2 separate regions of the Homo sapiens genome follow, and region 2 is linked to region 1. The links come from fine-mapping of genetic effects on gene expression. Tissue or cell type: whole blood. Region 1 holds a variant in brackets; the other region holds the start of a gene. All regions are shown on one strand. Distances are between the middles of the regions.

The links. PIP is the estimated chance that this variant, and not a neighbour inherited with it, causes the effect.
Region 2: it holds the start of VEGFA, and the variant in region 1 is fine-mapped to the expression of VEGFA in whole blood (TOPMed, PIP above 0.99). The same link has a PIP of 0.9 or more in blood mononuclear cells and monocytes.

What each region holds. Positions count from the first base shown.
Region 1 is chr6:43,722,590-43,727,783 of GRCh38, reverse strand. No RefSeq gene overlaps it. Among named protein-coding and RNA genes, the nearest start is that of MRPS18A, 37 kb to the right of the region's middle. RefSeq lists an enhancer at 2,754-2,843. The variant C/A (reference allele first, on the strand shown) is at 2,427.
Region 2 is chr6:43,767,807-43,772,913 of GRCh38, reverse strand. It overlaps VEGFA (vascular endothelial growth factor A), which reads right to left and starts at 2,703. Exons shown (of 8, transcript NM_003376.6): 1 at 1,602-2,703. The coding sequence starts at 2,207. RefSeq lists enhancers at 1-746, 747-1,512, 1,513-2,278 and silencers at 734-1,253, 1,324-2,263, 2,641-2,890.

The DNA.
Region 1 (5,194 bases):
CATGTGTGCATTCATTTATTCATTCATTCATTCATTCAGCAAACGTATCATATTCTAGTCTGAGCCCATCCTAGGGTCTGGGACTACAAAGAAAATCATGGCCTGGGCCTTTCTTCAAAGGCCTCACTCACTCATTCATTCATCAAACATTTACTAGGGGCCTCCTCTGGGCCCACACCTACATATTCTGTTTCTATCCTCTCTTGCCTTTGGACATGAAATAATTATTCAGGGAGTCATTTCCCAGAGATTATTTCATTTCCAATCTTCTTCTCATGCTTTCCGCCCTGTGTACCCACTCTGCGCACACACCAAATCACACAGAGAAACCAAAACAGAGATCCAGAAAGAATATTCTCCCACATCTCCTGTGGCTGAAGACTTTCCACTAGTTCCCAGAGTCTGGAAGGAAGAGCAACAGCAACTGAGTCCTCTGGAATTTTTTTCCATTCATTCATTCATTCATTTATTCACTCAACAAACAGTTTACTGAGCACTGTATCTGTGCCAGGCCCTGTGCTAGGAAGTGTGGGGGTAACAGAAATGAATAATCACAGAGTGCACCCTCGAGGAGTCTCCATTCAGTGGGCCAGTGGCTCATTCTTTCCACAAATATTCACTGAGCTTCTCTAAAGCATCAGTTAAGCTTTGGGAATGTGAACAAGAAAGATGAAGGCCCTGCACTCAAGGAGCTTGCTATCTATGAGGCGATGTCTCGTGCTGTCTGTGAGACAGACAATGGGCAAGTAAGCAAACCAGTAGACCACTGTTTTTCCAAGCAAGGCTCCGAAGAAAATAAAACAGGGTGATAGGACAGTGACTGAGGTTAGACAACACAAGTGAATTAAATTTGAGCAGGGCACTTACTTGCCTTCTCTGGGCTTCAGTTTCCTCAAGGAGAACAATCATATCCATCTCCACCATGGGAAGCAAACGAGTTAGTATATGTAAAGCCTGGAACATAGTGAGCACTATGTAAGTGTCATCAATTATTTATTTTTCCCAGGGAAGGGGAGGGTGGAATGGAGGAGTCTCACTCTGTCACCCAGGCTGGAGTGCAGTGGCATGATCGTGGCTCACTGCAGGCTTGACTGCCTGGGCTCAAGCAATCCTCCCACCTCAGCCTTCTGAGTAGCTGGGACTACAGGTGTGCACCACCACACCTGGCTAATTTGTTTACTTTTTGTAGAGATAGGGGTTTCATTATGTTGCCCAGGCTGGTCTCAAACTCCTGGACTCAAGCAATCCTCCCGCCTTGGCCTCCCAAAGTGCATCATTTGTTATTTTTAGGTAGATGCATAAGCAGATCATCAAAACATTAGGTGGTTAGTGCAGAATAAGGCAATGTAGATCCAGGGCATCCTGGGAGCACTGGAGAGGAGCCCCAACGTGCCAGGTACAGCCCAGCCAGGGAAGAGAGTCAGGACACTGGGCATAGATGCCCTCCCTGCGTCACCTAACCCTGCATCCCTGGAACCCACTGGCCACCCCCAAGGATGTTGCCTTTCTGAAGTGCTGGAGCAAGTGGAGAGGGGCAGAAGAAATGCATGTGCCCCACCTCCCTGCGGACAAGAGGGGAGAGAGGGTACACAGGTGGCCACAGGCAGGCAGAATAGGGCCTGCTTTCATGGGCCACCTCCTCCCAGGACCCTGGCTCTCCAAAGTGCCTGCCACCCTGTCTGGTGATAGAAATGCTGGGGAGTTGGGAGGAGGGCGGGTGCCCTAACACTCAATCCACATGGAGCAGAATGAAGGGGCAACTCCCCTTTCATGGAGTTCTTTCCTAGACCCTAGAGTTCAAGAGTTCAGGACTCCTGTTCACAGGAGCACACTATCTTTCCACCACTCTCAGCAGGGAGTATCACTGCCCCCACCTCTTAGATGAGTACATGGAGGCTGAGAAGGGACACTGATCTTTCTCAGTCACTCAGTTCAGAAGTGGCAGCGGAAAGTCAGCATCTGGGCTGGCTGCAAAGTGGCCACTCTTCTTCTCCTTCCCCGTTCTGCTTCTCCCAATTTGGGGTGCCCAGGAAAGCCTATTATGTAGGGAGGGCAGGGCTGTGAGACTCAGGGGAGGTGGGGGAGTGAGAGGCAGATATTGCTGTGTAAAATGACCTGGATCTGTGGTGAGGGCTCCAGGATTGGTGGAGAGAGCAGGGTACAGAACTGGGTTGGGGGGTTACAGCCAGGAAGAGATGGAACCACAGGGAGGAAGCCCCGCCTGCCCCCCATCCTCATCACAATAGGCATCGTGGCAAACAGAAGGAGGAAGGGGCAAGGCCCCAACCCCTCCTCCACAGTATCACCTGGCCAGGCAGCCCCATTCCCAGCCCTGCGCCCACAGGGACCAGGATGTGGGCAACTAGGGATAGACAAGCCCTGACGTAGACAACTCTGCGACCCCCATGCCTGGCCTCCTTAGCCAC[C/A]AGCCAAATACTCTTTGTGGTTTGGGCACCGGCCAAGCGCCCACACCCCAGCTCACGGGACCACAGCTTCCCTGTTGCATCAGGTTACTGAGCGCGTGCACACGCCCCAGAGCCTGTTACACAACTGTGGTGCGCGTGCGCAGCACCCACACACCCTGGGTGGCTCCACAGTCCCACAGAAGAAACCGCAGCCTTGCCTGGAGTGCACAGGGCCCGCTCCAGACTCTTGGCATTGAGAGCTGGAGATGGGGGTTAGGGGGAGGAGGGTGCCTGGTCTGGGGCCAGGATCTGTGAGCTCCACCACTGGCTCATTGTGAAACACCAGTAAGTCATGGCCCCTCTCTGAGCCTGTTTCCCCACCTAGAAAGGAAGCTCACCTTCCACCCTGATGATCTACATACCCAATTGCCCTCTGCGCCCCTCAACACCCTCCAAACCACCACCACCATCTCCCTTCCTGTAGGAATGTCAGCAAGAGAGGGAAGCAAGAATCTGCACAGAGAGGAGACGGAGGGGTGGATAAGATGACCTCTAAAAGGGCCCTTTCCTCTTGGGGCTTCTCCCCAGTAGAAGTGGGTGTGCCTTGAGGGGAGCTCCATCATCACCCTTTCTCCAGGAAGACCGAGGACAGTGGCCAGAGCTCTTTTGAGAAGAGACTAAGGAGCAGGAGGCAGGGGATGGGTAACTTTCTTCTGGAGGCAGGGGATGGGTAACTTTCTTCTTTGTAGTTTTTTCCCCCACTTTTCTACAACAGACATGTGTCACACACTACTTGCAATGGGTGGAGGAGGGAGTGTGTTGGGAGGGCAAATGCTCTTGGGGAAGGTTAATGTATCAAGCACACCCCCTTTCCCACCCTTAAGCCAGCATTTCCCTAACTATGTTGTGGCAAACGGGCTCAAATAAGCACAGGAAACCTGAGTTAAACACAGTCTAACAGGTTTTCTTGACTGCAGGACTTCTCTGAGCCTCTAACATGCTAATCTGGGCTACAACCCTCAGAGACGAGGGACGAGACAAGGAAACGCATTTAATCTCAGAGCTCTTTATAGGGGAGCATCTCAAGATGCACTTACTAGGCACTGCTGGAACTCAGAGTCCGGTGGCACGCCAGGCCCACACCCCATTGGTGAAGAGCCTCCATGGAGGAGAGACAGCCTAGGCCCCGGAGGACACCAAGGGCAGATGCCCTAGGCAGCTACCTCCCACTGCGTGAGTCCAATCCCAATCCTTCTCCCCAGAACTGGTCCAAGACCTGTATCCCAGTTACGAAGGCAGGTAGTAATGTGGGAGGGCCCATGGGTGGCCCTGCCGCTTCCCTGAAGTTACTTAGATCTGCAGTGACCCCTGCTGGCTCTAGCCAAAATCACCCCTCCCCTTACTCCTCACCTTCCTCCTTGCCAATCCCTGGCCCTCCAGCCTCTTCCTCATTAGCCTTGACGCAGCCCCATCAGGACCCACCGTGACCACACCCAAACACCAGATCCTTTATGCTTTCCTTCATGCCTGGGGTTGGAATCTGGCCAGGCTTTGACTGAGCAACATGTTAGTGAGTTCTGAGGCCTGTGCTGGGGAGGCCCTGATGGCATGAGGAAGAGGGCTCCGAGGACAGCCTGACCCCTTATCAAGGGCACAGTCACCCGCATGGAAGTTCAAGACCACTATCATAACAGCAAACATTCATTGGCTTTTTCAGGAACAGAGCTGAATCCTTTATGTCGAGTATTCCATTTAATTCTCATAAGAATTCTACAGGCACTGTTCCTGCATTGATCCAGTTTTCCAATGAGAAACTGAGGCTCAGAAGTTTAAAAATTACCAAATGGCAAAACTCAGATTCAAATCTGGATTTCTGGATTTGAGCCCACCCGTTCCTTCCCCGTGCTATTTTGCTCTTCTTGCTTCTGCCCACCCCTCAATCCACCTACAGTGTTCAAGTGTAGTTTTTTCTGCCCAGTGCCCGTGGTTTTGGGGAAGATGACTCAAGTGGACTTGCCTCATGTCCTCCAAGCATGGCCTTGTGAGCAGACCTAGCCAGTCATTATACCCTTCCCCCTAGTCAACGGGAACACAGATTGGGTTTTCATCCCCCGGAACCCATTCTTTCTTCTGATAAATAGCCTCTTGATTTCCTCTGGGCAGTCCCTACACTCTCAGTAAAAGTGGCTTGGATGGAAATGACTCCATCTCCCTGTCTCCGTGGGAAGATTCAGACCACTCAAGCACAGAAAAAAAAAAAAAAAAAAAAAAAAGTCCTATCCATAGTGATTGGTTCAGGAAGGACATATGACCAAACCAGGCCCATCAGAGTCAATCCTGGAATTTTACTGGAGCCACTGGGAAGAAGAATGGCTTTCTGCTCTCTCCGAAGTTACTAAATGGGTACGTATATTCCAAGAGTTTCCAGGAGTACTGCCTAAGGAGAACATGCGCGAGAAGGAAGCCCACACAGAGGAGAGCAGAGACCAAGCCCTGCAGACATTGTCCGGGCTGTGCCAAAGACAGACTCACCCCTGGACTCTTCAGTGATATAAGCCAATAAATTACTTTTTTGTTGTTGTTTTTGTCTTAAGCAAGTATGAGTTGGGTTCCTGTCCTTTGAAACAAAGATCTATCGAAGCCTCCCCCCATTATTCCTCATTGTTAACAGCTGTGTTTCCTTCTTGCCTTTTTCTCCCATGCTTACACAGACATACTGGACACTTTCTAAATAAAAATTGACGCCACTGGCTACTCCTTTCTTCAAGATATACTCTTTCGCTTATTTT
Region 2 (5,107 bases), 45 kb before region 1:
AGGGGCCAGGTGTCCTTCTCTGGGGGCCTCTGAAGGTCACACTGTGGCCAGGCAGCCACTCCTCCCCCTCCTCCCTACTTGGAGGCCTGTAGCCAAGGCCTTTGTGCCAGGGTCTGAGGAACTTGCGGTGTTAGCAGCGACCCCTGTCCATGGCTTTCCTCTTGCCTCCTCTCCAAGGGAATTCTGGCTGAGGGAAGGCGTCAGAGAGGAGCGGAAAGGGACCCTTTAGAGTCCCTTTCAGAAGCAAGTTGGGTGGGCAGGTTTGGAGTTCCAAAAAAACACCTGCTCCAGGGCTGCCTTTCACCAGGACAAAGTGTGTGCAAGGCTGGCAGGAGCTCCTTTCCAGGGTTCAGGAAGGACTATTCCCATGCTGCCCGTGTCACAGCAAATTTCAAGCCATTTCTCCAAAAGGGTAAAGTGGGGCAATGACTCTTCAAATCCTCCCTTGACCCACCCCCACGAGAGCTAAAGCACAGCTCACTCGGAACTGTTGGCGAGGGAAGGGAAGCACACTGTCACCAAGTCGGGACTTTCGGTGGAATGTGACAAAGCGCCCAGTGGGCTCCCGCGCCACGACTTCTGACAGTGATCATCCTTTCCCTGGACTCTGGGGCCAGAAAGGGGTTAGATGGATCTTCTCCGCAGAGAGAAATGAAAATAAGCGGGGTGACAGGGGCTTCTCTCCAGGCTAAAAAGGAAATGGGTGAAGAGAAGGGGCGTCAGGAAATTCCTCCTAGCACTGGGCAGAGGTAGGGTCTGGAGACAGTAGGAAGGGGTAGGGATGGTTCTCTGGATCCCCGGGCTGGGGCTACCTCGAGAGGTCACCTTCCCGCGGAGGGCTGGCGGGGGGAGGGGTGCCGCTCGCCACTCTGGGCTCCCCATTCGGGCAGCCGAGGCTCCGGGAACACGCGGCCGGCCAGGCCCGGGCTGATGTAATCGGCTCCGCGCCGCGCGCACCCGGCCGGGCGGGGGAGGGCGGGCACCGAGCGGGACGCGAGCGGGGACGGGCGGGGTTGGCGCGGCGCAGGTGGCCCAGCAGGGAGGGGGGGTCCCCGCAGCAATCCACCCCAAAACTTTTCCCAAACTCGCGGCGAGGGCTGAAGAGACCGAGTGGCAGTGACAGCAAGCCCCCTCTCCCTCCTGCGCCCTGCCCCCTCCACGCTCTCTGCCCTCCCGCGGTCCAAGGTCCGAGCACCCCCTGCCCACTGGTCTCTGGCTCCCGCCCCCGCTGCTCAGACTTCCAGTTCGTCCGGGACCAGCGGCCGGGAGCAAACTTCAGCCGGCAGCGGCAACGCAAGCCCAGCCCCCTCGGCCTCCTCCTCCGGCTCCCGCCCTCGGCTGGTCGGCCCAGATCGTACGTGCGGTGACTCCGGTGGGTGGGCAGGGCCCGCGTGGGCGGTGAGCCTCTCTCCGGGTACCCTCCCACCTAGCGCGCGCGCCCCCTCCCCCTGCACCTAAGACGACAGAGGGGGACGCCGCACGCCTGGTGCCCATGGACCCGCGTGGGGCACGGAGCCCCCACGCGCGCGCTCGCACGCACGTCCCCAGCCGGGAGAGGCGCTCGCAGCGGCCCGCGGCGCCAGCAGGGCACGACCGCTTACCTTGGCATGGTGGAGGTAGAGCAGCAAGGCAAGGCTCCAATGCACCCAAGACAGCAGAAAGTTCATGGTTTCGGAGGCCCGACCGGGGCCGGCGCGGCTCGCGCTCCCTCTCCGGCTCGGGCTGTGGGGCGGCCCGCTCTCCTCGGCGCCTCGGCGAGCTACTCTTCCTCCCCGGCCCGAGGCCCGGGCCAGGGCCTGGGGAGCGCGCGCGGCTGGAGCACTGTCTGCGCACACCGCCGCCTCACCCGTCCATGAGCCCGGCTTCCGAGCGCCGAGTCGCCACTGCGGCCCCCTCTCCTCTTCCTTCTCTTCTTCCTCCTCCCCCTCCTCCGGCTGCGGCTCCTCCCGGCCCGAGCTAGCACTTCTCGCGGCTCCGCTCGGCTCGGCTTCCCCCGCGCGGACCACGGCTCCTCCGAAGCGAGAACAGCCCAGAAGTTGGACGAAAAGTTTCAGTGCGACGCCGCGAGCCCCGACCCCCTCCACCCCGCCTCCGGGCGCGGGCTCCGGCCCCTGCCCGCGGCTCGCCGCCGCGTCCACTGTCCGCCGCCGGCCGGGGAGGAGGTGGTAGCTGGGGCTGGGGGCGGTGTCTGTCTGTCTGTCCGTCAGCGCGACTGGTCAGCTGCGGGATCCCAAGGGGGAGGGCTCACGCCGCGCTCCGGCGGTCACCCCCAAAAGCAGGTCACTCACTTTGCCCCTGTCGCTTTCGCTGCTCGCACGCCCGCGCGCTCTCTCTGACCCCGTCTCTCTCTTCCTCGACTTCTCTCTGGAGCTCTTGCTACCTCTTTCCTCTTTCTGCTGGTTTCCAAAATCCACAGTGATTTGGGGAAGTAGAGCAATCTCCCCAAGCCGTCGGCCCGATTCAAGTGGGGAATGGCAAGCAAAAATAAATTAAAACGAGAAACAATACAGTTTTAAAAAAAAATGTTTAAGAAAAAAGAAGAGGGATAAAACCCGGATCAATGAATATCAAATTCCAGCACCGAGCGCCCTGGCCGGTGAGTCCGCTGACCGGTCCACCTAACCGCTGCGCCTCCCGACAGAGCGCTGGTGCTAGCCCCCAGCGCCACGACCTCCGAGCTACCCGGCTGCCCCAAGCCTCCGCGATCCTCCCCGCTACCAGCCGACTTTTAAAAAAAAAAGGGGGGGGCGCATGGCTCCGCCCCGCCGGGACCCCGCCCCCGGCCCGCCCCGGGGGGCGGGGACAGGCGAGCCTCAGCCCTTCCACACGCGGCTCGGGCCCGGGCTCTGCGGACGCTCAGTGAAGCCTGGCCCGCAGCCCGCCGCAATGAAGGGGAAGCTCGACCCCCACCAAGGTTCACAGCCTGAAAATTACCCATCCGCCCCCGGAAACTCTGTCCAGAGACACGCGCCCGCGGGGCATTGGCGAGGAGGGAGCAGGAAAGTGAGGTTACGTGCGGACAGGGCCTGAGAGCCGTTCCCTCTTTGCTAGGAATATTGAAGGGGGCAGGGGAAGGCGGAGAGCCGGACAGGGACGGGTGGGGAGAGGGACACACAGATCTATTGGAATCCTGGAGTGACCCCTGGCCTTCTCCCCGCTCCAACGCCCTCAACCCCACACGCACACACTCACTCACCCACACAGACACACACGTCCTCACTCTCGAAGACGCTGCTCGCTCCATTCACCCAGCTTCCCTGTGGTGGCCGAGCGCCCCCTAGTGACTGCCGTCTGCACACCCCGGCTCTGGCTAAAGAGGGAATGGGCTTTGGAAAGGGGGTGGGGGGAGTTTGCTCCTGGACCCCCTATTTCTGACCTCCCAAACAGCTACATATTTGGGACTGGAGTTGCTTCATGTACAGAGAGCCCAGGGCTGGGCACAGGGGCCACAGTGTGTCCCTCTGACAATGTGCCATCTGGAGCCCTCATCTGGCCTGCAGACATCAAAGTGAGCGGCAGCCAACAGGCTGGAGTGACTGGGGTCCTTTGGGAAGTGTCCAGGGATGCTTCCCAGGGGAGAAGAATTTGGCACCAAGTTTGTGGAGCTGAGAACGGGAAGCTGTGTGGTTCCGGGGTTAGTCAGTGACTGGGAGGGAAGAGGACCTGTTGGAGCCCACGTATGCACTGTGGAGTCTGGCAAAACCCAAAGGGGGAGGCAGCTGGGCAGACAGAGGCCCTTGTTCCTGCTGCCCCCCCAACCCCAGATGTTGCCAGGGAACTGAGGCCAGGGGGCTGGTGGGGGCGGGTGGAGGCCAGGGCCTGCGTGATGATTCAAACCTACCCGCCAGCACTAAGGAACGTCTGTAGGCCAGCTGCCCAGAGCTCCCACCAGGCCAGGGGCCAAGGCTTCTATCAGCCCAAGCCCAGACTCATAGCTCATCTTCTGAATAGAAATGGGGGTTTCGTCTCAGCTCCCCCATTCCCTCAGGATCCCTTGGCTACTTCTCCAGGCTCACAGCTTCTCCCCTATCCTTCCCCCAGTCCCCTCCCTTACCTCCAAGCCCCCTTTTCCTCCAACTCTCCACATCTTCCCTAAGTGCTCCCAAAGGCCCCATCCCATTCTTGCATATAGGAAGCAGCTTGGAAAAATTCCTAGCTGGTTTCTGACCTGGCTATTTCCAGGCTGCCCCAGGGAACAAAGTTGGGGCTCTGAGGCCTGTGGGAAGAGTGGGACCAGTCAGTCTGATTATCCACCCAGATCTTGCCAGGGTCTGGCCTACAGCTGGCATAGCCTCTGTGGAGGCATGGACTGAGAATGGGAATGCAGCAATTTCCCTCAATTTAACCAAAACGCTCCAGGGAGCTTACCTAGTCAGCCCCATCCTCAGCACATGTTGCTGTGGTTTGGTGGAGGTGCTAGGTTACCTCCCCAGTACCCCCAGTTCCATCGGTATGGTGTCCTAAGGCCCTTATGAGGAAAAGGGCTGGCTCCCACCCACCCCAACCCTCCCTTTCCATCATTCGTGCACTAGTCCTGTCTCCACCACTTGGCAGGCTCCCCAGCAGCAGGGACAAGGTCTTTGTACAGTTAGTAAATGTTTATTTCCTGGCTCAGGGCCCCCTCCCAGGCAGGCCTCCTCACCTGGGCTCCATGCTCTAGGCTGATGAACGGGATATGGAAGGGAAGCCACTAACTTTCCTCCTTGTGCGCCTCTAGCACCCCAGGAGCACAAGCTGTAGACATCTTGGGGCAGGATGGAGGCTCTGAGCCCTAAGGGCTCATTCTGGCCCCCTCCCTTGCATCCCTTCTCAACTCGGCCTTCTTCAGCCCCTAAAAGAGCCAACAGACCTGAAAGAGCAGGTCTTAGTAAAAAACAAATAAACAAATCTGAAGCTAAGAGGAGGCTGGAGGGGTTCCAAGGAGGGATAGCCATCACCAGTCACTCCGTGGCCCCAGGCACCCCCCACCCCCATAAGCCAACTGTCCTCCATGGTGGTACCCAGCAAGGTGTGTTACAACAACCTGTTTGTGTTTCCCTCTGGGGCTTTGCCCAGGGATCCAGGGGAGTGAGGGCACAGAATTCCTTTTATATAAGGCTAGGATTAC